Homo sapiens: one gene and its partners. The protein of the gene in region 1 purifies or fractionates together with the protein of each later gene. This does not show direct contact. Each region holds a gene or a part of one and is shown in the gene's direction. Other genes may lie near its edges.

Region 1 (3,500 bases):
AAGACCCTGTCTCAAAAACTAAAACAAAAGAGAAAATCAATTATATCTGAGCAATATCACAGGGAGGATGAGAGGCTTTGCGGATAAAAGTATACCTGGATAGAGGGAGGGAGAAAGATAAAGAGGAGGATCCAGTAAACAGTAGAGGAAAAAAAGGCTTTTAGTAAGGTTTTCTGGTGTCAGTCTGATGTATACTGATATTTAGGCTGTGTTGTAGCTGGCAAACTACTCTTCACACTTTTCAGTTGCTCTTTAATATGCATGAGCTCTCTCGATTAGAGTAGATGAGGAGGGCATTATTCTCTAGGCCGTGTGGCTAAAGCGCTATCATCCCTTGGTCATTGATAGTCCTTGCTGACATTTGATTTACATGCAGTTTTATGTCAGATCCTTTAAAATCACAAATATATGGAGAGAAAAATGGTATAGACAATAGAATATTCTACTGGGCCTATAACTGGTCCATTAAGTGCTTATTTAAATTGTAAACAATCAAATTTAATTTGGTGTTTATAAAAAATTATGTATGTGAACATACATTCTGTTATCTATATGTGTCTGTAATCCATTAGCTTATTTACAATGATCAAAGAATAGAAGTGTGAATAAATCAGAATGGCACATGATTGAAAATGCTGTGTAACTGAAGATGCATTTGTGTAGTCTTGAATTTCATTTGAAACAAAATTGTTAGTCTGTATCTTGAAGCACATTGCTACTTTGTATTTTTATTGATGTATAATTAACATTCAATAAAATGCACATAATATCCAGTTCAAGGAGTTCTGACAATTGTATACACTGTAACTTCTACCAAAATCAGATAGAAAACATTTTTTTTAAGTCACCCTAGAAAGTTCCCTCACCCACCTTCCTCCAAAGGCAATCACTTCCTGACTCCATAGATTTCTGACACTACAGAGATTTTTTGACTGGTCTTGGACTTCACATAAATGGAATCATACAGCATGTGCTTTTTTTGTGTTTGGCTTCTTTCATGTAAGAAAGATTCATCTATGTTGTTGGCAAGTATCAGTGGTTTGTCCTTTTAAGTTGTTGAATAGTATTCCATTGTATGAATGTACCCCAATTTATATTTTCTCCTTGATGGATATTTGGAATAAGATTGTTATGAACATACTTTTACAAGTTTCTTGATAAATACCTAGGAGCAGAGTTACTGAGTCATAGGGTATGTGTATGTTTAACTTTATTAAAAATCTGCCAAACAGTTCTCCAAAGTGGTTTATACTGAGTTCTACTTGCTCCGTATTTTTAGTGTTGCCAATGTTTAGTATTGTCAGCCTTTTCAATTTTAGTCACACTACAGGATGTATGGTTGTACCTCATTATGGTTTTAATTTACATTTTTCTGATGATTAAGAATGTTGAGTGCTTTATCATATGTTAATTGGCTATGCAGTATCTTTTTTTGTGAATTGTTTGTTCAAGTCTTACCTAGTCTTTCATTGGGTCATTCATCTTTTTATTGTTTGTAGGAGCTCTTTATATATTCAAGGTACAAGTTCTTTGTCACATATAGAGATAGATGTGTTGACAGTTTTTTTTTATACAGTCTGTCCCTTGTCTACTTTCTCAATGATATTGTGATGAGCAGAAATTTTTAATTTTTATAAAGTCTGTTTTATCAATTTTTTGTATTATGGCTAGTGTTTTTTGTCCTGACCAATAAATTTTTACCAGTGCCCAGGATTGCAAAGAAAGCTTTTTCTTCTAGAAACTTTATTTTTCTAAGTTTTTCATTTGAGTCTGTGATTGATCTCAAAGTAATTATTATTGTGTTATGATATAAGATAGGAGTTTGGGTTCATTTTCCACCTATATAGATATCTAGTTGTTCCAGCAACATAGGTTTAAGAAAAACTTCCCTTTCTCGGCCAGGCACAGTGGCTCACACCTGTAATCCCAGCGCTTTGGGAGACCAAGGCAGGCAGATCATTTGAGCCCAGGAGTTTGAGACCAGTCTGGGCAACATGACAAAACCACATTTCTACTAAAAATACAAAAATTAGCCGGAAGTACTGGCATGCACCTATAATCCCAGCTACTTGGGGGGCTGAGGCAGGAGGATCATCTGAGGGAGGTGGAGGCTACAGTGAGTTGTTATCATGCCACTGCACTCCAGCCTGAGGGCCAGAGTAAGACCCTGTCTCAAGACAAAACAGAACACATCTCTTTTTTGTTTGTTTTTCTCCATTAGATTGACTTGGCATCTTAGCGTGTCAGCTGAGCTACTTTGCATTTTAGTTGTGCTTATATTGTCAGTTTCTTAAGCACGGACCCTGACCTTAAAAATTAAATGTTTATGCTCCTCTTCCAGATTGGGACTTGACTGAGATTGATCCAGGGCTAGTTACCATGTATTTCCTGATGGAAGAATGTTAAGTATGAATTTGAATTTTAAATGGCTTTTCTGTGGGTCGAGTTAATGGAGACAACCTCATTTTAGAAGCAATTGCATCTTCCTTATAAAATAGGCAGATGTTTAGAATGAAGGAGATGTAAGCAAGGAAAGATCACCTAGGACTCCAACATAGCAAGCTATAGGGAGCTTAATATTTCTTGTTTATTGGCTTGATCTAAATAGATGCAATTATATATAAGCCATGTGTTTTAGTTTCCATCTTTTTCTGTTTTGTTTTGTTTTGAGACAAGGTCTCAATTTGTCACCCAGTTTGGAGTGCAGTAGTGTGATCTTGGCTCACTGCAGCCTCGACCTCCTGGGCTCAAGCAGTCCGTCAGCCTCAGCCTCTCAAGTATTAATAGCTGGGACTACAGGCATGCACCACCATAACTGGCTAATTTTTGTATGTTTAGTAGAGATGGAGTTTCATCATGTTTCCCAGGCTGTCCTTGAACTCCTGAGCTCAAGCAAACTGCTCACCTTGGCATCCCAAAGTGCTGGGATTACAGGCGTGAGCCACCACACCCAGCCTTAGTTTCCATGTTTCTACTCCATTGTCTATTCCAATCCTTTGTGATGCAATTTCTGAATTTGCCTTGGAACAATTTTTAGGGAGACAGTTTGGTTATTTTTTTCTTCTAAGTTTATTTGCTGATAATACACTAAGTTTTAAAAAGAATGTCACCCCAACCTCATTATTCTTATGTAGCTATTTTTACTTTTCCTCATTTCTTTCCAGGCCTGATTCATTCTCATACGTATTTTTATATGATTGTAATCATAGTGTGCATATTGTTTTTTGTTCAGAGATTGAGTTGTAACTAGTGAATGCTGTCTCCCTTAGGTAGATCACCCTTGTTAGTAAAGACAAAGATTAGAGATGGAGAAAAGACAACTGGGGACTTACCAGTGAGGAGTCTTGAATCCTAAAGCTTAACTAAAATAGAAGCAGAAAAAAGCTAAGATTTTCAAAGACAGGATTACCTTTCTGTGGAAATGCAGGACAACTTTGGTTTCCTTATTCATTCCTTCCCCCTTTCTCTAACATATAACAGCTTTAGTGAGATATAATTCG
Region 2 (3,048 bases), on another chromosome or scaffold:
AAAACTTCCCCAAAGGTAACTTTTCAAGGAATAATGGCTAGCTACTTGAAAGATACTTTCATCACAGAGTTTATATTTTTTTCTACTTTAGAAATAACTGTTTTACTGTGTCCTGTAAGAGTCATCTTTAAAACTGACCTTGTTTTCAATGGAGTTGAAAATTGGAATGTAACAGTCTCATCCTTTCCTCCTTGTCTAGTTTTGAAAGGAATCTGTTTAATCCTGTTTACAATGTTCTGCCATAGCTTTGACTGACTTTACTATTATTGTAAAGGCAGAAATAAAGCTTTATGCCAAGAGCTAATAATTTAAAAGAAAAAACATCACCTCAGTATCAGTCCCTTTGCATTTAGTGCAGGGTAAGTTTAGTGTTGGGCCTTAAGAAAGATGGAAGGAGGTAGGCCAGCTCAAGCCTCAAGCTGGCAGGGCCGAGAGGCTGGGCTTTGATCTACCAACCACATGTCCTGGCTCTGTGGACAGCGAGGCGAGGAAGCTGTGAGCCCAGCATGAACCTTGTGCCTGAAACGTCTGCCTCTGTGCTTGGGCTGCCTCCTCTGAGACCTCTGGGTGTGAATTTTCAGTGAGCTCAAGGCAGTGCACATAACAGCTGCTACAGTTTTCCATACTTAACTCTGAACATACTATAGACTACCCATTTATATCCTGTTTGGTTTAGTTAAAATAGTAAATAAGTAGATGATTCCTGGTTATCTCAGACATTCCTGGAAATATTTACTATGATGTTGGTCTGGTTATCTCCAGCTCCTTGGAATCCCAATAAATAATCGCACAAATACAGGGAATTGTTGGGGAGGGAGAAGCTTGTTTGATAAATACATAAATGATGAGAAAACTAGTCAAAATTTAGTTTTTAGGATGTGTCATGGGATTAAGATAAATTTACTTGAATTTCCCGTAGTCTGACCTGCCATCTACAGTTAGCTAATGTTCATTGGGAATCAGATGAATACCCTATTTTTCAAGAATTCTAGAAGGGTGGTTAAGAGTTTTTAGTATTATTTCTTTTTTTTTTTTCAAATGGACAGTCTCTTATTCATCCTCCTCCTCCTCCTCCTCCTCCCCTCCTTCTTCCTTTTCATCTTGTTCATCTTCATCTTCCTCTTCCACCTTTTTCTGGGCAACTTTAGCAGGACCCTTTTCTCCATCAAACTTTCCTTTCAACTTATAGTCAGAAACATCCTTCTCATACTTTTCCTTCAGCTTTGCCGCCTTAGTGGTGTAAGGCTGCTTTTCACTGTCATTTAAGTTATTCCGCATCTCACCCAGCTTTTTTGCCATGTCTCCAATAGAGATGCCAGGGTTTATGAATTTGATCTTGGGGTGGAATTCTGAACAGAGCAGGAAGAATCCAGACGGTGGCTTTTTCGGGGCATTAGGATCCTTCTTCTTGCCTCCCTTAGCTGGTCCATAATCCTTCATTTCCCAGTGGTAGTGTACTTTATCCACCTTTGCCATTTCATCAAATTTAGACTTCTCTTTCCCAGACATTGTCTTCCACCTCTCAGAGCACTTCTTGGAAAATTCTGCAAAATTGACAGAGACCGCTGGGCTCTTCTTCTTATGTTCTTCTCTGCACGTCTGCACAAAAAGGCATAAGCAGACATCTTGCCCTTTGGTTTCTTGGGGTCACCTTTAGCCATCCTGACTGTATTGTTCGATAGTCTGGGCAGTGCCTGTCTTAATAAGACATGTTTTCTGCTTTCTTTCCTTTTCTTTTTTTGTTTTTTGAGACAGAGTTTCGCTTTTGTCACCCTGGCTAGAGTGCAGTGGTGCCATCTCAGCTCACTGCAACCTTCACCTCCCGGGTTCAAGCGATTCTCCCGCCTCAGCCTCCAGAGAAGTGGGGATTACAGGGGCCCACCACCATGCCTGGCTATTTTTTTTTTTTTTTTTTAGTAGAGACTGGGTTTCGCCAAACTCCTGACCTCAGGTGATCTGCCTGCCTCAGCCTCCCAAAGTGCTGGGATTACAGGCGTGAGCCACCGCACTAGGCCTCCTACTTTCTTTTCTAAGTAATATTTTTTAGCCTTGTCACCAATAAGAAATTTTTTTAGAAGGACATATGATTAAATCACTCATCCATTCCATGATGTTTTGACAACAAATTTACTTTTTTTTATACATATTTTCTTAATATTGCAGCAGACCTATAAGTAACAATGCTGGGCTTCTGTTTTGTTTTCACCCCAGGTTCTCCTCAAAATCTAAGTCTATGGACAAATCAGATGAAGAACTCCAGTTTCCCAAAGAGTTGATGGAGGACTGGAGCACCATGGAGGTGTGTGTGGACTGCAAGAAGTTCATTTCGGAAATCATCAGTTCAAGCCGGCGCAGTCTGGTGTTGGCCAACAAAAGGGCCCGATTGAAAAGGAAAACGCAGTCTTTCTACATGTCCTCGCCAGGCCCCTCGGAGTACTGCCCTTCAGAGAGGACGATCAGTGAGATCTGAGCCTCGTGCCTTTCAGCTGCTTTTGTGCTACGAGTCAGCGTCCGTGCGCGAGGACACTGAGCCGGGCTGGCTCTCCTTTCTGTGGTTTTATTTAATGGGCTTGAATTTGCATTAGATCAGATTTTTGCCGCATCACATTGTTCCACAGACTGAATGCTGTGTTCGTATCGATTGATGAAACGTGACAGGTCCGCCAATTGCTCGTTTGCACTGAGAGAGGACAACAGTTTGAAACTTACTTTTGTGTGTGTGTGGCTTTGGAAGCCAGTAGCTACTTCCTTAGTTCAGTTCTTTACTGTTCCTCGAATAATCTCCTGACTAAGGCAAAAAAAAAAAGCTTCTCCTACGAGAATCAGTCTAACAGAGATGCCGATGTCAGCACAGCCCTAAGCAGTAAGTCATATTGGCATTTCCACGTGACTGTGTTTCTATCCCGTGTACAGAGAGATCCAGAGCCCTACACTCCACGACCTGGGGGCTCACAGCACAGAACCTAGAAGCACCTGCTGACACTCTTCAACTGATTTTTAAATGTTGTTGCTTGGAGATAAAAATTACATAAGGGACTTTTTGCCTGC
Region 3 (3,500 bases), on another chromosome or scaffold:
TGAGGACTGCCCAGGCACAGTGAGGTAGAAGAGTGCTCAGATAAGGATCATAGAGGAAGTCAGACTCTGACTGAGTTTGAAGCTTGTGGGAAGCCTTTCGAGACCATAAGGAAAGAACTAACACTGCTTTTCTAGCCACAACGTCAAATGCCTAAGGCATTGCTACATTTGTTAGGGGTGAAGAGAGTTGGTTTCCCCTGGGTGTGTCCAGGTAGGGCCACAGAGGGAGAGGTTTGCATTTGCAGATGTCTCAGGGTTCTCTGCATCAGGGCGGTCAATACTCTCTCCCTGACACTGCCTGTTTCCTCTTGCTCCCCAGGCTGGCTGAGCACCTGCGGAGGATCAGAGCGGCTGTGGTGCTCCAGAAACATTACCGCATGCAGAGGGCCCGCCAGGCCTACCAGAGGGTCCGCAGAGCTGCCGTTGTTATCCAGGCCTTCACCCGGGCCATGTTTGTGCGGAGAACCTACCGCCAGGTGAGTAGCCACTCTGAGGGCCTCAGGGCTGCAGATTCAGAACTAAAGTGGCAACAGATGAATTACTGCCAACGTGAACCTCTGTCAAGCACTCCCAACTTTTTTCTAAATGCTTTCACATCTCTGCTCTCACCAAATCCTTTCTGAAGTCCCACAAGGTAGGAAGGGTGTGCATACTGTTGTCTTAGTCCATTAAATGTTGCTATAACAATATCTGAGGCTGGGTGATTTATGAAGAAAAGAGGTTTATTTGGCTCACAATTCTGGTGGCCAGAAAGTTCACAATTGAACATCTGCTTCTGGAGAGGGCCTCAGGCTGCTTCCACTCATGGTGGGAGGTGGAAGCCGGTGTGTGCAGAGGTCGCATGGTGAGAGAGGAAGCACAAGAGTGGCTCTTTTAACAAGCAGCTCTAATGAGAACTAACAGTGAGAAATCACCCTTGAAGAAGGGCATTTATTTGTTCATGAGGGATCTGCCTCTATGACTCAAACATCTCCTGTTAGACTCCATCTCCAACATAGGGGATCAGATTTCAACATGAGTTTTGAAGGGGCCCAGCATCCAATCATGGCAGTTTTCACACCCCTTCTGATACCTGAGTTGCTCAGAGAAGCCAGGTCACCTGCCTGAGGGCCCAGGCCAGCCAACAGCAGGGCCAGGTGACCCACCTAGGGCTCATTCACACTTGAGGGCAGGCGGTGGTATTGGGCATCATCAGGTCTAACTCCTCCACTTAACGGATCAGGAGCTTGAAGCCCAACATGGTGAGGTCAGGAGGGAGGCCCCGACCTCTTCCCTGCCAGGTTCTTGCTCTTTGTGTTGTTCCAGTGAAGCCAAAACCCTTGGGTTCAGGAGCCCCACATCAGGACACATCTGTTCAACCAGGTAACACCAACACATCTGAAGCACAGAGCTGACTTGAAACACGAATTGGAAGGAAATGTCTAAAATGGTTTTCTTTTTCATTAAATGAACATCTGTCTCTTCTATGATCACAGAAGGTGTGATTTTCTAAATAATAAAAGTAAAGCACGAAATTGATAATAATAAAAATGTGGTCAGGGTGGAGCACACCCTGGTGTAGTATGTAGAGAAACCCAGGCCATTGGGAGAAGGTTCTGTGAGTGTTCTTGGGTGATGGGTGGCGTTGGTGTGCTGCTCCCATGGAAGGGGCAGGTGATGTTTGGGAGTTTCTCAGCAGGGGCAGCATGTGCAAAGAGTGAGCACTGATGTGGCTCCCAGCTCTGTCACTCATGGCTGTGGCACTGTTCATTGCTCAGCCTGTTTGCTTGTTTACTCATTTATTCCACAAACATTTATTTTACCAGGTATTAGGGCGAGCACACTGATGATGCTTTCATATCCTGAGTGGTTTTTTAACTTGGTAGAAAAAAAAAAACAGTGAATTACACACCAAGTTTGTAATTATAAGCCATTAGCCTGCTGTGGACACTCACTGAAGTATCTCACTTCCAGCTCAGTGCCACCAGGAGGGGACCTCCACCTGGTAAATGGGTAGAGAGCAAGTGGATGATCATTAGGCCCCTACAACCTTGAGGTTTTCAGACTGTGGTTTCCTAACCCATAAAACAAAAAGTAAAACAAAGCTGAAAAGAGTTTGACAGCTGATTCCCTGTGGATATGTAGGCGCAGAACCTCGCTGAAATGTGTTATAAAACAACCACCAAAGCCTTAGATCTTAGGGGGCACATTGTCTGTGTAACTCCTAGAACCAAGGCTGCCCTGGCCTCTTCCCTCCACAGGCAGTGATGTATGCTTCCTTCACTCCTGTCCTGCAGTGCAAACCCACAAGATGTGTATCCTTGTTTCCCGCCAGGTCCTCATGGAGCACAAGGCCACCACCATCCAGAAGCACGTGCGGGGCTGGATGGCACGCAGGCACTTCCAGCGGCTGCGGGATGCAGCCATTGTCATCCAGTGTGCCTTCCGGATGCTCAAGGCCAGGCGGGAGCTGAAGGCCCTCAGGATTGAGGCCCGCTCAGCAGAGCATCTGAAACGTCTCAACGTGGGCATGGAGAACAAGGTGGTCCAGCTGCAGCGGAAGATCGATGAGCAGGTCAGTGTCTGCAGCTCCCTACCTGGGTGTCGGGGGCTTGGGTACTGGAGCATTTTGAGAGAGCCCACAGCTTCCTTGAGGAACTGCACATGCCGAAGACCCGAGGGAGCACAGACGTCCTCAGACCACAGCAGATACTAACTGTGGCAGGCAGATCAGTGACCCCTAAAGATACCCTCAGCCCTGGGATCTGTGAGTGTGTTACCTTATATGGCAAAAGGGACTTTGCAGATGCAATTAAATTAAGAACTGTAGGATGGGAAGAGTATCCTGGGTGAGCCAGGTGAGCTTGATATAACAGGGGTCCTCCTAAGAGGGAGGCTGGAGGATCAAGTTCAGAGAAGAAGTGATGACAGAATCAGAGGTGGGAGGGATGCAGGCAGCCTTGAGAAGCCAGAGAAGACGAAGACATGGACTCTCCCCTAGAGCGTCCAGAAAGAATGCAGCCGTGCCAACCCCTTCAGACTCCTGACCTCCAGAGCTGTAAGATAATGATTTATGCTATCTTGAGTCATAACTTGGTGGTAACTTGTTGCAGCAGCAATAGGAAACTGACACACTAGCCCAAGGTGCTGGTGTTTTGCCCTTGCAGGGGTGACATAGGGTAATGCAGCAGCAGCTGGTGTGCATGGAGGGCTTGCTGTGTGGGGTATGGGGCTGGCGCTTTGACTGGAGTAGCTTGTCTAATATAGCGGCCCTCCTACGGCAAGTATTACCATCCCCCTTTTTGTACAATTGAAGACACTGGAAGGGCACATGGCATCCTAAAGTCACACAGGTGGCAGTGGCAGGGCCGAGGTTTGAACCCCAGCTGTCTGGCTCCAGAGCCCATGCTCTGCATCACTTTGCCCTTCTGTCTCTCTGTCTGCCTATCTGTCTGTCTGCCTCTTTTGGAAAGAGTGTTTGCTTTGGAAATCAGAATTCAGTTCTTCTGCTTAAAAGTTGA
Region 4 (3,500 bases), on another chromosome or scaffold:
TGTGTCCCCAGGTGGCATCTGGCAACATCTGAAGACATTTTTGGCTGCCACGGCTGGGCAGGGGGTGCTGTTGGCATTGAGTAGGTAGAGACCAGTGGTTCTGTTTAACATCCCATAATGCACAGGACAGTCCCACATGTCACCAGTACCACAGTCGCTGAAACTCTCATCTCTAGGGATCCGTGGGAATAGAGGGGGTGATGGGGCTGGACACCCTGGCAGACAGGCCACAGTCCTTAGTCCACCAGGGAGGGGCCGGCTGCTGACCTGCACCCCACACTCGCCCGTCCAGGTGAGCTGCTCCCCGGTGTCTGCCCAGCTCCTGTCGGTGCTGCAGGGCCTCCTGCACCTGGAGCCCACCCTCCGCTCCAGCCAGCTGCTCTGGGAGGCCCTGGAGAGCCTCGTGAACCGGGCCGTGCTCCTGGCCAGCGATGGTGAGGGGGCGGGGCAGGGGCGTAGGCACAGCCTGGTGGGCAGACACTGAGGTCTTAGACCATGGGGGGGGGAGCCTGCCCTTGGCCCCAACCCATCCTCTGCCCAGGGGAGGTGGCCGCTTTTTCCTGCCTCTTCCTCAAGCCCCCATCCCTCCCTCTCCGGCTCCCTTCTCCCTTGACCCTGGACATCCCCTACTGCAGCCCAGGAATGCACCCTGGAGGAAGTGGTTGAGCGGCTCCTGTCTGTCAAGGGGCGACCCAGACCGAGCCCCCTGGTCAAGGCCCATAAAAGCGTCCAGGCCAACCTAGACCAGAGCCAGAGGGGCAGCTCCCCGCAAAACACTACAACCCCCAAGCCCAGCGTGGAGGGCCAGCAGCCAGCAGCAGCTGCTGCCTGCGAGCCCGTGGACCACGCCCAGAGTGAGAGCATCCTGAAAGTTTCGCAGCCCAGAGCCCTGGAGCAGCAGGCGTCCACCCCACCCCCACCCCCACCCCCACCCCTGCTCCCTGGTTCCAGTGCCGAGCCCCCTCCCCCTCCCCCACCACCCCCCCTGCCCAGTGTGGGGGCTAAGGCCCTCCCAACAGCACCCCCGCCCCCACCCCTGCCAGGCCTGGGGGCCATGGCCCCCCCAGCACCTCCTCTACCACCACCCCTGCCAGGCTCCTGTGAGTTCCTGCCCCCACCACCTCCACCACTCCCGGGCTTGGGATGCCCGCCCCCACCCCCACCCCTGCTGCCTGGTATGGGCTGGGGCCCTCCTCCACCCCCACCTCCACTACTGCCCTGCACCTGCAGCCCCCCCGTGGCGGGAGGCATGGAGGAGGTCATCGTGGCCCAGGTGGACCATGGCTTGGGCTCAGCATGGGTCCCCAGCCATCGGCGGGTGAACCCACCCACACTGCGCATGAAGAAGCTGAACTGGCAGAAGCTGCCATCCAACGTGGCACGTGGTGAGGGTCCCCAGACCCCCAAGGGAAGCTTCCCCTAGGACGGGGGCTGGTCTCTGCTGGGGAGAGGGGCAGGTGGCACATGGAACTTGTGTGCGCGTCCTGCCCGTGCGTGGCCAGGGCAGCCTGGCCCTTGCTCTGGGCTCGGCGCCTGTGGTTGAGGTGGGGACGGGGGAGGAGCAGGGCAGGGGCTACCTCTGAGGACCCCCCTCCACATGCTCCCGTGAGCCAGTGCATCTGGGGTGCCATGGTGCCCTGGGGCCCTGCTACAGGTGCTCAGGTAGGGAGGTAGGGTGCCTGCTGTACGCTGGACCTGGACCTACTGGGCCCCAGGCAGGACATCCTTTAGACCCTCTGGGAGGCTCCAGCCCCTGCCTGCTGGATCGCCAGGCCCCGGGGCTGCGAGAGCCTCACTGGCCGTGTCCCCACCCGACAGAGCACAACTCTATGTGGGCGTCCCTGAGCAGCCCCGACGCCGAGGCTGTGGAGCCCGACTTCTCCAGCATCGAGCGACTATTCTCCTTCCCTGCAGCCAAGCCCAAGGAGCCCACCATGGTGGCCCCCCGGGCCAGGAAGGAGCCCAAGGAGGTGGGGACGGGGAGGGGACTCAGACCGGGGCCGCCTGCCTGGCCACCCTCCGGTACCAGCCTGTTGGGTGGGGGGTTTTCTAGATCACTTTCCTCGATGCCAAGAAGAGCCTGAACCTCAACATCTTCCTGAAGCAATTTAAGTGGTGAGTGAGGGAGGTAGCCCCCATCCCAGGCCACGGAGCCTCGCCTCCACCTGAGCCTTCTGACTTGGGCCCAGCAGTGCCCTCTGCAGGCCGCCATGGGAAGTGCACACTGCATCCCCTAGGCAGGATTGTAGGCGGGTAATAGCCCCATGCTGCCCCAGCTAGGGGCTGTCCAGGCTCCCAGGGACAGAGCGCTGGGACCTCCCCCCACAAGGCCACAGACAAGTAGTGGCTAAACCAGTGGGCCCTGACTCTCAGCCCCCGAGTCCTTTCCTGCTGCGGGTGTCCAGCACTGGCCCGAGGGAGCTGGCTGGACCCGACCCATCCTGCATCTCCTGAGCAGGGCCCATGGAGGGTAGCGAGGGTGGGAGTCAGCCTGGGTCCCCTTCACCGCGTGACCGTGGGCAACAACTCGACTGTTCTGTGTCCCCCCTGCCCTGGCCACCCCATGACTACGTGGGGAAACCCTGCCAGGTGGGGTCCCAAAGAGGCTGGGTGGGGGTGACTCATGATTCACTCACCCCTGCCCGGTCCTCTCCCTGCTCCAGCTCCAACGAGGAGGTCGCTGCTATGATCCGGGCTGGAGATACCACCAAGTTTGATGTGGAGGTTCTCAAACAACTCCTTAAGCTCCTTCCCGAGAAGCACGAGGTAAGAGGACCACCCCCACACCCCACCCCCAGTTAGTGCCACCAACCAAGGGAGAGGCTGTCCCGGGGGCTCCCAGCAGGGAGACAGAGAAGGGAGGCATCCCAGCCCTACCTCTGCCCTGAACCGTGAGCCACAGGGAGCCATGATGGGCACTGGAGGGGCTGAGCCCGGCGGGCAGTCCGGGAGGGCGGGAAGCTGGCATGGGGGGATCCCACATGCCGTTCTCCTCCTGGCAGATTGAAAACCTGCGGGCATTCACAGAGGAGCGAGCCAAGCTGGCCAGCGCCGACCACTTCTACCTCCTCCTGCTGGCCATTCCCTGGTGAGCATGGCCGCCCTCAGACCCCAGGGCCTGGGCCCCAGGTGGGAGGAGAGCAGGAATAGGGAGCAGGGCCCAGCCAGGGAGGAGAAGAGGCTGTGCCAATGGCTGCCCCGGGCTCCAGGAGCAGCATTGCAGCGGTTGGGCTTCTAAACATCACTCGAGCCCCACCCCCAGTCCTTCCCCTCAAAGTGTGGGGCTGGAGGCCTCTGGAGGAATTGGATCCTGCTCTGCGCAGGCCCGGGAGGGTGCCTGTTGGATGGGGCAGGCGGTGGAAACCCCCTCCCTTTGCCCACCACCCAAGCCAGAGCCCTGTGCTGAGTGCCCCTCTGGCAGGGACAGGTGGGGGGTGCAGGCCACTGATCCCTGTCTGTGCCATCCCCAGCTACCAGCTGCGAATCGAGTGCATGCTGCT
Region 5 (4,288 bases), on another chromosome or scaffold:
CAGGATCTCACTCCATTGTCCAGCCTGCTCCCCACTCGCCGCCCCGCCCCGTAGCTGGGATTACAGGTGTGTGCCACCATGCTCCGCTAATTTTTTTATTTTGTAGAAAGTTCTCCCAGGTTGCACAGGCTGGTCTCCGACTCCTGAGCTCAACTGCTCCTCCGGCCTTGGCTTCCCTGAGTGCTGAGGTTACAGGTGTAAGCCACTGTGCTCCGCAGGGTGCTTTTAGACAGAGAGGCCAGGAAAGGCTCCTTGGGGAGACCACGGGATGAAAAGGAGGAGGAAGAGCACTGTGGAGCAGCATCCCAGCCAGAGGCCCTGAGCCGGGAAAGCGCTCCACTCATGGGAGGCTGGGCTGCAGGGAAGTGAGCCCCAGGGCCACCTGGGGACTTAGGAAACCTTCTAGGTGGGAGCAGGGAGCACCCAAGATCTGCCAGCCACGAGTAAGGACTCACATTTTGCATATAGACTGGTCTGCCCCCCCTTCAGTTAATGAGAAAGCAGGGGATCAGAGGGAGGAAGGCTGCGCAGGCCTCTGGATACCTCATCCAATGACAAGATCGCAAGGGGAGCGTCACCCCCAACGCTATCAGGCTCGCCCGATCTGGCCTCTTGTTGGTCTTTTATTCGAGTCATTGAAACCATATGAAACTGCCACTTTTATAGGTCAGCCCATCATACCAACCAAGATCTTAGAGAGTGGAGGTGAAGTTGGGCAGATAAGGGACCTCTGGCTGACTTGCTCTGGGCCCCGGCGTGGCCGGCAGGACCTGCATATCTGCCCGCCAGCCCGCACTGGAGTGGCAGGGTTGTGCCACAGTAGCGCCCAGTGAATCAGGTTGGCAAACTTAAGCGAGCATTCACCTAGAGCGAGTGAGTTGTTAGCAAAGCGAGGCCGCGCTCCAGCCCGCACTGTTTCTGATTCCGTGGGACCTGGTGGGCCCCAGAAATCTGCATTTCTAACAAGTTCCCAGGTGTTCCTGACGCTCCCGGTCGGGACTCCCACTTTGCGACCCTACGCACTAGACATTTGCTGCACGGATAAAGGTCAGAGAGCGGTGCCGGACACTCACTTCTCACCCTCCAACGTCAGTCCTCCCGGGCTGGTCCGCCCACCTCGCCCTCGCACGGCCTCCAGGCTCCAGGTGGTTCCCCTCCCCCAACTCCGCCAGGAGGCGCCGGCCCCGGGATCCCCCACTCCGCCCAGAGAGGGTCGCGCTCCCCCCAGGGGTGGAGGAGCACGGGGAGAAGCCCTCTGCCGCACCCGCGGGTGTCGGTGCAGGGCCCAGGTGCCGGAGGATTCCTTCCCCGGACGCTCGCCGCGGGCCGGGTCGGGACTCTGAGCAGGCGGGGCGGGGCGGGGCGGGGGCGGCGCTCCGGTGGGCGCGGCAGAGCAGCCGGGGCGGGGGCGCGGCGCACCTTGCTCCCGGCGCCCCCGCCCCGCGCCGCCGCCAGCCCCTCCCTGCGCTCCCGGCGCCCCCGCCCGCTAGAGACGATTCCAGCCCCTTCCGTCCGCCGCGCTCCGCCGCTGTCCTCCGCCGGCCCGCGTGGGAGGACGATGGGTCAGCGCGGAAAAAGTGAATGAGGGCGGCAGCGGTGGCGGCGGTAGCCAGCGCCTGACTCGGCGGGCCCGGAGCACCGCCCGCGTCCCGGCCCCCGGCACCATGGACGCGCCGCGCGCCTCGGCGGCCAAGCCCCCGACCGGGTAAGCGGCCCCGCGGTCGGGCGGGGTGGAGAGGGGGCTTCCCTGGGCTCGGACGCCCGCGTCCGCACCGCGCGCTCCCGGGCAGGGCGCCCTCTCTGCCGCCCCAGCGGGTGCTGGTGGTAGTGGTGGAGCAGGTGGTGCGGTGCTGGTGTTGGGTGCTGGTGTTGGGTGGTGGTGCGTGCTGTGTACTTTGGGCACCCGGGTCGTTGCCCAGGTAACCGTGTCGGGCCGGGGCCGGAGCGCACTTTTCGCGCGGGGTGGTTTGTATGCAGGCGTCCTTATGGGGGTCCCCGCCAGCACAGCCCCCACTCAGCTCCGAGCTTTCCTCAGGCCCCCCAAGTGTTTGCCGTAGGGGTGGAGCGGGGAGCGAGGGGACGCCCGGCCTTTGACTCCGGCCTCTTCCCTGCGGGCTTGCCCCTGGCCGGTTCCCATCAAGTCTTCCCTCTCCCGGCCTCGGCGGCAGCCCCAGGATCGGCTCTCCCGGCAGCGTGGAGGGGAGGGCTCCCCGGCTTCGCAGCCGCCCGGGCCCCGCGTTCTCGGAAGGTGTTCGGATTGCCCGGAGGGTTTCATGGCAGCAGCTCTCCCTCCCTGCCTTTATTCCAGGGTCTCCCCTGGCAGTGGAAGGGGCGTCCTAGTGGGGCCAGGCCTGAGGCGCAGACATCCGTAGCGGACCCGCGAGTCTGGCGGCCCATCCCTGTCTTCGCGATTCCGCTTTTGCCCAAACCTCTCCCGGTTTCTGTTTGCTATCCCCACACCTTGCGTGCAGGGATTACACGTCACATTCAGGATTTGACTCTCAGAAAGAGTAATTTCCCTCAAACAGGACGAGCAGCCCTGCTCATTATTCAGACCCCGAGCCAGGTGCGCCGTGCTCATCCCGGCCAGCGGTGCAGGCTGGGCCGCGGGGTAGCGCGCAGTCCCGGTGGACTTTGTAGTTTTCAGCGCGGCGCGCCGGGGACCTTCGAACTCGCTCGCTCGCCTGGAGCAAATGTGTATGAGTCTTGCAAATGGAATGAGGGTTGGGGTGAGCCCTGCACCTGCTTACTGAATGGGCCCACTTTCTGCTATGGCAACTGGACTTGAAGGAGGCAGCTTTGGGGACAACAAATCTTTTTTTCTGTTACAGTTGTGTCCCACTGACTCACCCTGCCCATGTGCCCATAGGCGGGCGTGTTGCCCAAGTGTGTAAAAGACTTTCAGTCGGGCTCTTTTTAAAATTTTAAAGTTTTCCTTTAATGCCAGGAAAAGGTGAGCCAGGTTAGCAAATCAAATAATCCTGAAGCTGAGGAATGTTAAAAAGAAGTTTTCTTTCTCTCTCTCTTTTTTTTTTTTTGCAGTGCACTTACTGGTGGTTATATAATTCTCTTTGAACAAACAAATTCCCCAGAAAGAAAGTAAATGTGGGAAATCCTTTTTCATGGTAATAGGCATCCCAAAATAACAGGGAAATGTGAAACAGAGGTATCTTTAAATCTGTGGCTTTCATAGCCTATTAAATGAGCCTATTTAAGGACACTGAATTATTTTGTCACTATCACCTTATAAATAAATATGAAGACAGAGAGAACATTTAAAAGGCCGGCAAAACTGTATCCAAAGAGTATCTGTAAGATCCTTGAAGGGAGTCTAATGATAGAAGTGAAAGGACTTACCCTAAGAGCGTGGCACTCTTTTCAGCCTGGTACTGTGTGGCAAGAGGTAGTCGAGGGCTGGCCTTCTCAGGGCTTCCCAGAGCTCTGATTGGCTTTCATATTTGAATTGCAAAGTAAAACTAAGGATTTTTGCTATGGAAAACATGAAATTATTCCTGATGCATTCAGTTCTTTCCCTCACTCATATCCAGTGTCTAATTTACTTGTCCGAACATCTTTGTCCAAGAAATGTAGACATATTATTTTTAACTTCTATTGTTCTCACTTTGTCATTTGTTAATACTTTCAGTGAAGAAGCATCAAGAAAATGTTAATATCCTTATATTTTTTCAGACAAGAATTACGTGTTTAATAAGCAATTTTGTGTTCAAATCTGAGGAGATAAATGGTGTTAGGTCTTCGAATATTTTATATAATTTAGGTGTATGCTTGCTAATTATAAAGGTTAGATATTGCTGTGAAATTTGTGGCTTTAGTACATTATTGGTGGCAGGCAGATTCTGTTGGCTCTTCACTGAGATTACTCCTCTGTTCCCTGAGATTAAGGCAGTGTTTGCAGTGTGCTTGAGGGAAATTTGTTTTCCATCTGATTCTGCAACCGTTTATTATAAAATCAAACTTTCAGTAAGCCTCTGTCTTCCCACATGATAACAAACTGATGTGGTGAAGCTGTTGCTGTTGCTGAAACTACCACTCCTCCTTGTGTTGTATAGAAACAAGCTAGACTGGGTGCAGTGAATTAACGAGATTTCACCCTGTGGCCTACAAACGCTCTTCTAGAAGATTACTGAAGGGAGATAGGTTGGTGAATGTAAACTCACTGACTCTGTGTCTGGCTAAATTATTAACAGGTAGTTATTAGTTATCTTTGTGAAAAACACAAATATACGTTTTTACTTGGATTGAAATTGTATGTTTTTTACTAGGAATT
Region 6 (3,500 bases), on another chromosome or scaffold:
TGGCTAATTTTTGTATTTTTAGTAGAGATGGGGTTTTGCCATGTTGGCCAGGCTGGTCTTGAACTCCTGACCTCAGGTGATCTGCCCGCCTTGGCCTCCCAAATTGCTGGGATTACAGGTGAGAGCCACCGCACCTGACCAAGATGGAGTCTCTTAGTGAGTTTCGGGGAGCCATTCCTTCTCCTGGAAGCTGCCCCAACTGCCTGAGGGTTAAGGTCATGTTGTCCCCCCACCCCCCACAGGGCTGTATCTGGGCTGGCTGTGGCTCCTCGGGGTCTCAGGGTTAGACAGCCTGGCTGGAGGGCTGGGACTGGGGCTGCACACATGGGTGTCATGCGTGTCCATGTGCTTCTGTGTACACTTTGATACATCCTGTTGCCTGCACACACGTCTCAGCCAAGCTCTGCACTTGCCTGCCTGTGTGCGTGTTAGCAAGCCGGGGACTATATCTCTGTGTGTGTTTGTGTATCTAAACATGCGTGTCCATTTGTGTTTGAGCAACTGAGCATGTGTTCATGTATGAGGGTGTTTGAATTTCTGCTCCTCTGTCACACATGCGTGTTGTGTGTTACATTCACACATGCTGGATTGAGCTGTGTGTGTGTGTGTGTGTGTGTGAATGGGCATAGTGGTCATTGCACAGTGGGGGCATTTGTCTGTGTTCTTTTTTCTGTGTATATGACTGTGCTGAGTGTGTCCAGGCCAGCCCAGAGCTCGGCCATCCTGCGGGGCAGGGGGCAGATGGAGGCTATTCACTGTGGCTGGCCTGGCTTATGCCAGAGCCTGCCCATCTTCTGGTGGGTTGTCCCATCCCTGCCCACCCCGCCCCATCACCAGACCTATCCCAGCCAGCAGGCCACTCGCCTGCCACCTCTGCTGGCTAAATTTGGGAGCTTGTGTTCAGTGGCTGTCTCAGGTTCCCAGTCACATGGGGGGCTGTATTTAACCTGGTTCCCAGCTCAGCCACCAGACCCTGTGGGACAGAGCAGGCCCCATACTCGTCTCTGTCCACTCTGCCCACTCATCCCCCACCATGTTTCTTGTTCTTATAGCCACGGAAGAGCTGAAGGAATTCTTTGCCAAGGCACGGGCTGGCTCTGTGCGGCTCATCAAGGTTGTGATTGAGGACGGTGAGTGCCCCTCACAGGCCAGGGTATAGGCTTGGGGGTGGACTCTGCTGCCTCTGTGGGTGGGGGAAGGAGGATGTTGGCCCCTGGCCTGCCGGGACCTCAATTTCCCACTCTGGAAATGGGTGTGAGGCCATCCTGACAAAGGAGAGCCTCACAGGGCAGCATCAGAGGTGGGCGCAATTGTCACCTCTGTTATGCAGAGCAGGAAGCCGAAGCTGGGGTCAGCAAATAGAGCCCTGTCCTGGGGTCCTGCCACCTCCCAGAGGCTGCATGGATATTCAGATGGGCCTGGCCAGGATGCCGAGCTGGGCTGGGCAGAGGGGCAGGGGATAAGTGAATCCAGCACTGCCCCTTGTGGCTGGTGCCACCCGCCTCATTTGTTGGTGGCCTGGCCTGGCTCAGCTGCTGTCCGAGGGGAGACCTAAGGAGATCCTGCACCCTTCTCTTGGAAGTGCCCCCATGATGGGGAGAAGGGATGAGTGTCTGGCTCATCTGAGAGTAGGATGGGAGGGTTCTAGGCTTGGCTGGGCTTTGGCCTTGCCCCTGAGGACCTGGGAGCTGTATAGAGGGCAGTGCTGGGGACACTGGGACTTGAGCTGAGGCCTGAAGTGGGGAGGGTTTGGGGAGGCAGAGGATTAAACTGAGGAGGATTGGGAGGTCAGAGGCCAGAGAACATTTTTTCACCTTTCCTCCATGCCAATGGACTGTCCCTTTGGGTGAGGGGTACAGACTTTGGGACTGGGGTGGGCCAGGCTCCCCAGAGGTCCTCCCAGCTCTTCTCATTAGCCATTCAGCAGCAGGCACTTTGGATGGCTGCCTGAATGGGCCTGGTGCTCAGCTGGCTTTCCACGCGTTGTGTTGGCTCAAAGCAGGATCTGCCATTCCAGGTTTTAGGGCCTTGGCAGTGCTTTGCCCAGGGAGTCCAAATTCTGATGCCCTCAGAGACTGGGCAGGGGTCACTGTGGCAGAATATTAGTGATGGCTTCCTGGAGTGGCAGGCCACAGCCACCCCACCCTTAAAAAGGCAGTTGTACTCATTGACCCCAGTCCTCGGCCCTCCCTGTTGCCTCCCAGACAAGATGTCCCTGCAGATTTTTTTTTTTTTTTTTTTTTTTGAGACGGAGTTTCGCTCTGTCACCCAGGCTGGAGTGTAGTGGTGTGATCTCAGCTTACTGCAAGCTCCGCCTCCCGGGTTCACGCCATTCTCCTGCCTCAGCCTCCCGAGTAGCTGGGACTACAGGCGACCACCACTGCGCCCGGCTAATTTTGTATTTTTAGTAGAGACGGGGTTTCACCATGGTCTCAATCTCCTGACTTCGTGATCCGCCCACCTCGGCCTCCCAAAGTGCTGGGATTACGGGCATAAGCCACCGTGCCCAGCCGTCCCTGAAGATTTTAAGCAGGAGGAATCTCTGGATTGACTTTTATCTCAGTTCTGCATGACAGTTGTTGGGGTACCTGGGACTGCCCAGGAGGGTCCAGGCCCCCGATGGGCAGCCACTGTCCATCTCCAATTGAGGATGGCTCCAGTGTGGCCAGAGGGCCTGATTTTTCTAGAGAGGCTGAGAATTCTACTTCTTATGTAAAATTTCCCAGTTTGAAAATGTTAGCAACAAATTAAGCAATGTTGACAGTGCTGTAGGGGCCAACACAGGCCGTGACTACTCAAAGTCACTGTGACTGTGATCCTGTCTGAGTTCTGGGTGGGCAGGTGAGGAGGCCGAGGCCTCAGAGGGCCTGGTCTGTTGGGGCGTCCAGGCATCGGGGCCCCTGCCCAGATCAGGAGAGTCTGGTGGACTGACACCAGGACCCCCAGCCAGGCTGACTGCCCCTTTGCCCCAGTTATTGCTCCAGGCTAGACCTGTGTATACCCAGGCTGGTGTCTGGTGCCCAGATGAGGTCCCAGTCTACAAGTGCAGCTGGATGCCCCATTTCAGCCAAGGAGCTAGCAGGCCTGTGGGGCCTAGGCACTTAGATGGTGGCTGCTTTGGATCTGCGACATTTTCTTTCTTTTTTTGAGACGGAGTTTCGCTCTTGTTGCCCAGGCTGGAGTGCAATGGCGCCATCTCCTGCTCACCACAACCTCCGCCTCCTGGGTTCAAGCGATTCTCCCACCTCAGCCTCCCGAGCAGCTGGGATTACAGGCCACTACACCCAGCTAATTTTGTATTTTTAGTAGAGACGGGGTTTCTCCATGTTGGTCAGGGTGGTCTCGAACTCCCAACCTCAGGCGATCCGCCTGCCTCTGCCTCCCAAAGTGCTGGGATTATAGGCGTGAGCCACCGCGCCCGGCAAGGATCTGTGACATTTTCGAGGGGACTGCAGCTGGCAGGTAGCCGCAGGATGTCTGTTTATCCAGGGTCTGGTAGG
Region 7 (3,500 bases), 690 kb from region 1:
AGGGGCATAAATAACCTGCTGTTACCTCAACAGCAGGCAGACAGCTGGTATGATATTTATTAGTAGAAGTTAGGGAATGGGTTGGGACATGGGGAAGGTTGGGCTGATTCCAGAGATAAAAACTACTATTGTAATTACTAGAGGAATAGGAAAATCATTAGAAGTATTATCAGTGGATAAGCACAAGGATCTTCCCCTTGCAGAGGATTATAGGAAGGAAGTTCTAGGATAGATTACAAGGAAAGATGTATTAGTGATATGCCATAATTATGGTATTTAACATTGTGGTTAAATCTGAAAAGTGCTCTTTAAAAAAATGTCATTCAGATCTTAAGGGCAGATTTTAATGTGTGATACAGATCAGTTCCTATTACAGTGAAGGACAAGAGACTGTTCAATTTCTTCTTTTTAGCCAGAATGGTAATGGTTTTGTCACAGCAATTTAACAAGGCTTCCATTTTGTAAGTTTTTCCAGCAGTATAAACATTTTAAGGACAATAGCTAGGTTCTTGGGATACTTGTCTGGAAACGAATATTTTGGTTAAAACATGTTTTGTTGATTTTTAAAAATAACAGCTTTATTGAGATATGTGTCTTATACCATATAATTCACCATTTAAAGTGTACTATTCAATGGTTTTTGGTTTATTCACAGAGTAGTATGTTGATGTGTTTGTGGTCAACCTGCCTTGCTCCCAAAAGAATTAAAGGAAACTATGATATCTCATTGCTTCTGATTTTGAAAATATTTGCTAGTCTTGACTTGCCAGTGGATATCTATATCATACATCATCCATAGGTGCTTTTGGTAACTAGAAGCAATTCTACATTTGTGGAGTAGGGTTTATCAATTAGACCTAGAAGGATTATCGGGAACATTATAATGAATGGCATGCTATTCCTCCTGTCATCATGTTCCCAGACACCATGGATAGCACCATGGTATCCATGCTATAGGATGGTCAAGATTACTTGAAGCTGGGTTTTTTTTTTTTTAATTTTTTATTTTTTTTGAGACAGGGTCTCACTGTGTCACCCAGGCTGGAGTGCAGTGAAATGAACATGGCTCACTGTAGCCTTTAACTCCTGGGCTCAAGCTGTCCTCCCACCTCAGCCTCGTGAGTAGCTGGGACCACAGCTATGCACCCAGCTAATTTTTAAATTTCTTCTAGAGATAGTCTCAGTATGTTGCCCAGGCTGGTCTTAAACTCCTGGACTCAAGTGATCCTCCTGCTTCCACCTCCCATAGTGTGGGATTACAGGCATGAGCCACCACACCCAGCCTATTTTATTTATTTATTTATTTATTTATTTATTTATTTATTTAGGTTCAGGGTCTCACTCTGTTGTCCAGGCTGAGGTGTAGTGGTGTGAACATGGCTCATTGCAGTATCGACCTCCCAGGTGCAAGCCATCCTCCCACCTCACCTTCCTGGGTAGCTGAATCTACAGGCATGTGCTACCAAACCCAGCTAATTTTTGTACTTTTTACAGAGACAGGATCTTGCTGTGTTGCCCAGGCTGATCTCTAACTCCTCAGGTCAAATGATTCTCCTGCCTCGGCCACTCAAAGTGTTGAGATTACAGACATGAGCCACCATGCCTGGCTTATTTTTAATTTTAAAAAAGTTTTAATTTTTTTGTTTACTTTTGTGTTTTGTTTTGTTTTTACCTGAAGCTGTTTGATTAGGAGGTTCCCATGTGTGCTGAGATGCTGAGTATTGTAACAGTGCAAAGACAATCTAAAATTCCACATTTGCAAAGCATGTTAACTTGCCTAGATGAAACAGCTCTTAAGGTCAGTAGATTGTATATGTGTAACTTTCCATTCCCAACATATCCTCTCATATATACAGGAGCCACATGGCCTAGATTTTTTCTGGGATAGATCCACTTTTATATTCTATGGCACTGTCTCTTCAAACTACTGATCTTGGAAATTCTAATATTTTCATGTCGAGACTGTATTTCTCAGACTGCTTCCAACATCTTAAAGAGGAACAGAAATCTCATCTCTGATCATGTGCCCTGACTTGGAGTTTGGCAAGGATGTTAGCTGTCCTCAAGTCTCCTGTCATGCCCTTTCCATTTGAATTTCCTCCTGGTGTTCCTAGGCCTGTTAACGACTTGCTGTTCTCCTAGTTCCGCAGCTTGGAAACCTCCGTATCTTTTTTCTTGTCTTTCACATTCGACTTCTTCTATATCAATTCTAATTTCAGTTGACATCCAGCTGATAGCTCAGATTTGGAACTCCCACTAGTACTCTTTTTCTCTGTCTTAATGTCCCAAACATGTTTCTGTCTTATTACGGTTACTGTATTTGTGTATATGTTTACCACTCCCACGATACTCTAAGCCCCCTGACATGCTGTTTTGTTTACCTCCTGTAGAGCCTAGCCCAGTGTTACACAGAATAGCTGCTCATTGAATATTTGTTGAATGAATACTTAAGCAGGGGAGGGATGGAATGAAAATAATGGTTTGGCATGATCAGTCCACTTGTAGGGACGAAGCAGGGTATAAAGATGTGGTTAAACAAGTAAACACATTTTCAGGCATGTTGAACAGGATGAGTAATAGAACTGGGAACCAGGGAGACCAGGAAACTTTCAGGAAACAAAATGTGAAGTGGTGAAGGTCTGGTGGACTGAGGCAGGGGCAGAAGGTGTGGGAAAGAAGAGGATAAATCCGAGAGACAGGTCTCTCCGAGATGGATTACATATAGGATGGGAAGGAGCAGGAGTAGTATGAAATAATGCCAGTAGCTCCAGACTTGGAAACTGAAAATTAATTCCTGTTTCATCACAAATTTTGACTGCCTCTGTGGAACTTGAATGCTACTAAGAAATACTTCTTTACATAGCTTGACAAAGCAAAATGCCCATTATTTCCTCTTGAAATTTGTTACTGTTTCTTGAAGTGTGAAAGTTTTGTGTATTGTCCAGAAAAGATTACAGAGAGATTCTGATTCTAATGAGAATTGCTGCTGCCACATATTTTAGATCTTCCTGGTACTTTTAGCTTTTTTTTTTTTTTTTTAAATAATGAAAGAGAACTGGAGGAAGCTTTATGAATGGGCTTCCAGGGATTTAACTGTAACCTCAGGGGAGGGGTGACAGGGAATGCTAACTCGTGTATGGGAGAATGTGGGAGAGGAGAGATGATCCGCCTTACTTCTTACCTCAGAAGGTAATTTAGTTTCTCTGTTTTTCATTTTATGATGAATTTTGCCTCCATTGGGAGAATTCAGGAGTACGTGGTCCACTAGAGGATAGACTTGGATGTATTTGTCTCCACTTCAGGCAATTCCCAGTGAAGTATGAGGTACTGTTGGAAGTCTAAACTTCTGATCTGTGGAGTAAGGTCTGGCCATAGACAAAATATTATGTGAGCAATTCCACTTCTTCCACCTCACCTGAAGGCATGTCCTCCATCCTACAGTGGTCTTCCTAGACTTATTCTATTTATCTTCCTAGGGAGTTTGTCCTTTTCTCCCCAGC

What was found.
Region 2: the proteins of TMOD3 (region 1) and SPIRE1 purify together in Homo sapiens (affinity purification with mass spectrometry; 2 studies listed by BioGRID and IntAct, with this or other methods). This does not show direct contact.
Region 3: the proteins of TMOD3 (region 1) and MYO5B purify together in Homo sapiens (affinity purification with mass spectrometry; 2 studies listed by BioGRID and IntAct, with this or other methods). This does not show direct contact.
Region 4: the proteins of TMOD3 (region 1) and INF2 purify together in Homo sapiens (affinity purification with mass spectrometry; 2 studies listed by BioGRID and IntAct, with this or other methods). This does not show direct contact.
Region 5: the proteins of TMOD3 (region 1) and COBL purify together in Homo sapiens (affinity purification with mass spectrometry; 2 studies listed by BioGRID and IntAct, with this or other methods). This does not show direct contact.
Region 6: the proteins of TMOD3 (region 1) and TWF2 purify together in Homo sapiens (affinity purification with mass spectrometry; 2 studies listed by BioGRID and IntAct, with this or other methods). This does not show direct contact.
Region 7: the proteins of TMOD3 (region 1) and MYO5A purify together in Homo sapiens (affinity purification with mass spectrometry; 2 studies listed by BioGRID and IntAct, with this or other methods). This does not show direct contact.

What each region holds. Positions count from the first base shown.
Region 1 is NC_000015.10:51,832,653-51,836,152, forward strand, and holds part of TMOD3 (tropomodulin-3), read left to right. Parts: intron 1-3,500. UniProt on the Homo sapiens protein: Blocks the elongation and depolymerization of the actin filaments at the pointed end. The Tmod/TM complex contributes to the formation of the short actin protofilament, which in turn defines the geometry of the membrane skeleton.
Region 2 is NC_000018.10:12,449,060-12,452,107, reverse strand, and holds part of SPIRE1 (protein spire homolog 1), read left to right. Parts: intron 1-2,211; coding exon 2,212-2,470; 3' UTR 2,471-3,048.
Region 3 is NC_000018.10:49,901,648-49,905,147, reverse strand, and holds part of MYO5B (unconventional myosin-Vb), read left to right. Parts: intron 1-319; coding exon 320-476; intron 477-2,314; coding exon 2,315-2,554; intron 2,555-3,500. UniProt on the Homo sapiens protein: May be involved in vesicular trafficking via its association with the CART complex. The CART complex is necessary for efficient transferrin receptor recycling but not for EGFR degradation.
Region 4 is NC_000014.9:104,706,618-104,710,117, forward strand, and holds part of INF2 (inverted formin-2), read left to right. Parts: intron 1-292; coding exon 293-434; intron 435-635; coding exon 636-1,385; intron 1,386-1,818; coding exon 1,819-1,970; intron 1,971-2,053; coding exon 2,054-2,115; intron 2,116-2,663; coding exon 2,664-2,766; intron 2,767-3,002; coding exon 3,003-3,088; intron 3,089-3,470; coding exon 3,471-3,500.
Region 5 is NC_000007.14:51,314,010-51,318,297, reverse strand, and holds the start of COBL (protein cordon-bleu), read left to right. Parts: upstream 1-1,488; 5' UTR 1,489-1,664; coding exon 1,665-1,705; intron 1,706-4,288.
Region 6 is NC_000003.12:52,232,659-52,236,158, reverse strand, and holds part of TWF2 (twinfilin-2), read left to right. Parts: intron 1-1,052; coding exon 1,053-1,130; intron 1,131-3,500. UniProt on the Homo sapiens protein: Actin-binding protein involved in motile and morphological processes. Inhibits actin polymerization, likely by sequestering G-actin. By capping the barbed ends of filaments, it also regulates motility.
Region 7 is NC_000015.10:52,522,381-52,525,880, reverse strand, and holds part of MYO5A (unconventional myosin-Va), read left to right. Parts: intron 1-1,678; exon of another isoform or gene 1,679-1,699; coding exon of another isoform or gene 1,700-1,798; intron 1,799-3,500. UniProt on the Homo sapiens protein: Processive actin-based motor that can move in large steps approximating the 36-nm pseudo-repeat of the actin filament. Can hydrolyze ATP in the presence of actin, which is essential for its function as a motor protein. Involved in melanosome transport.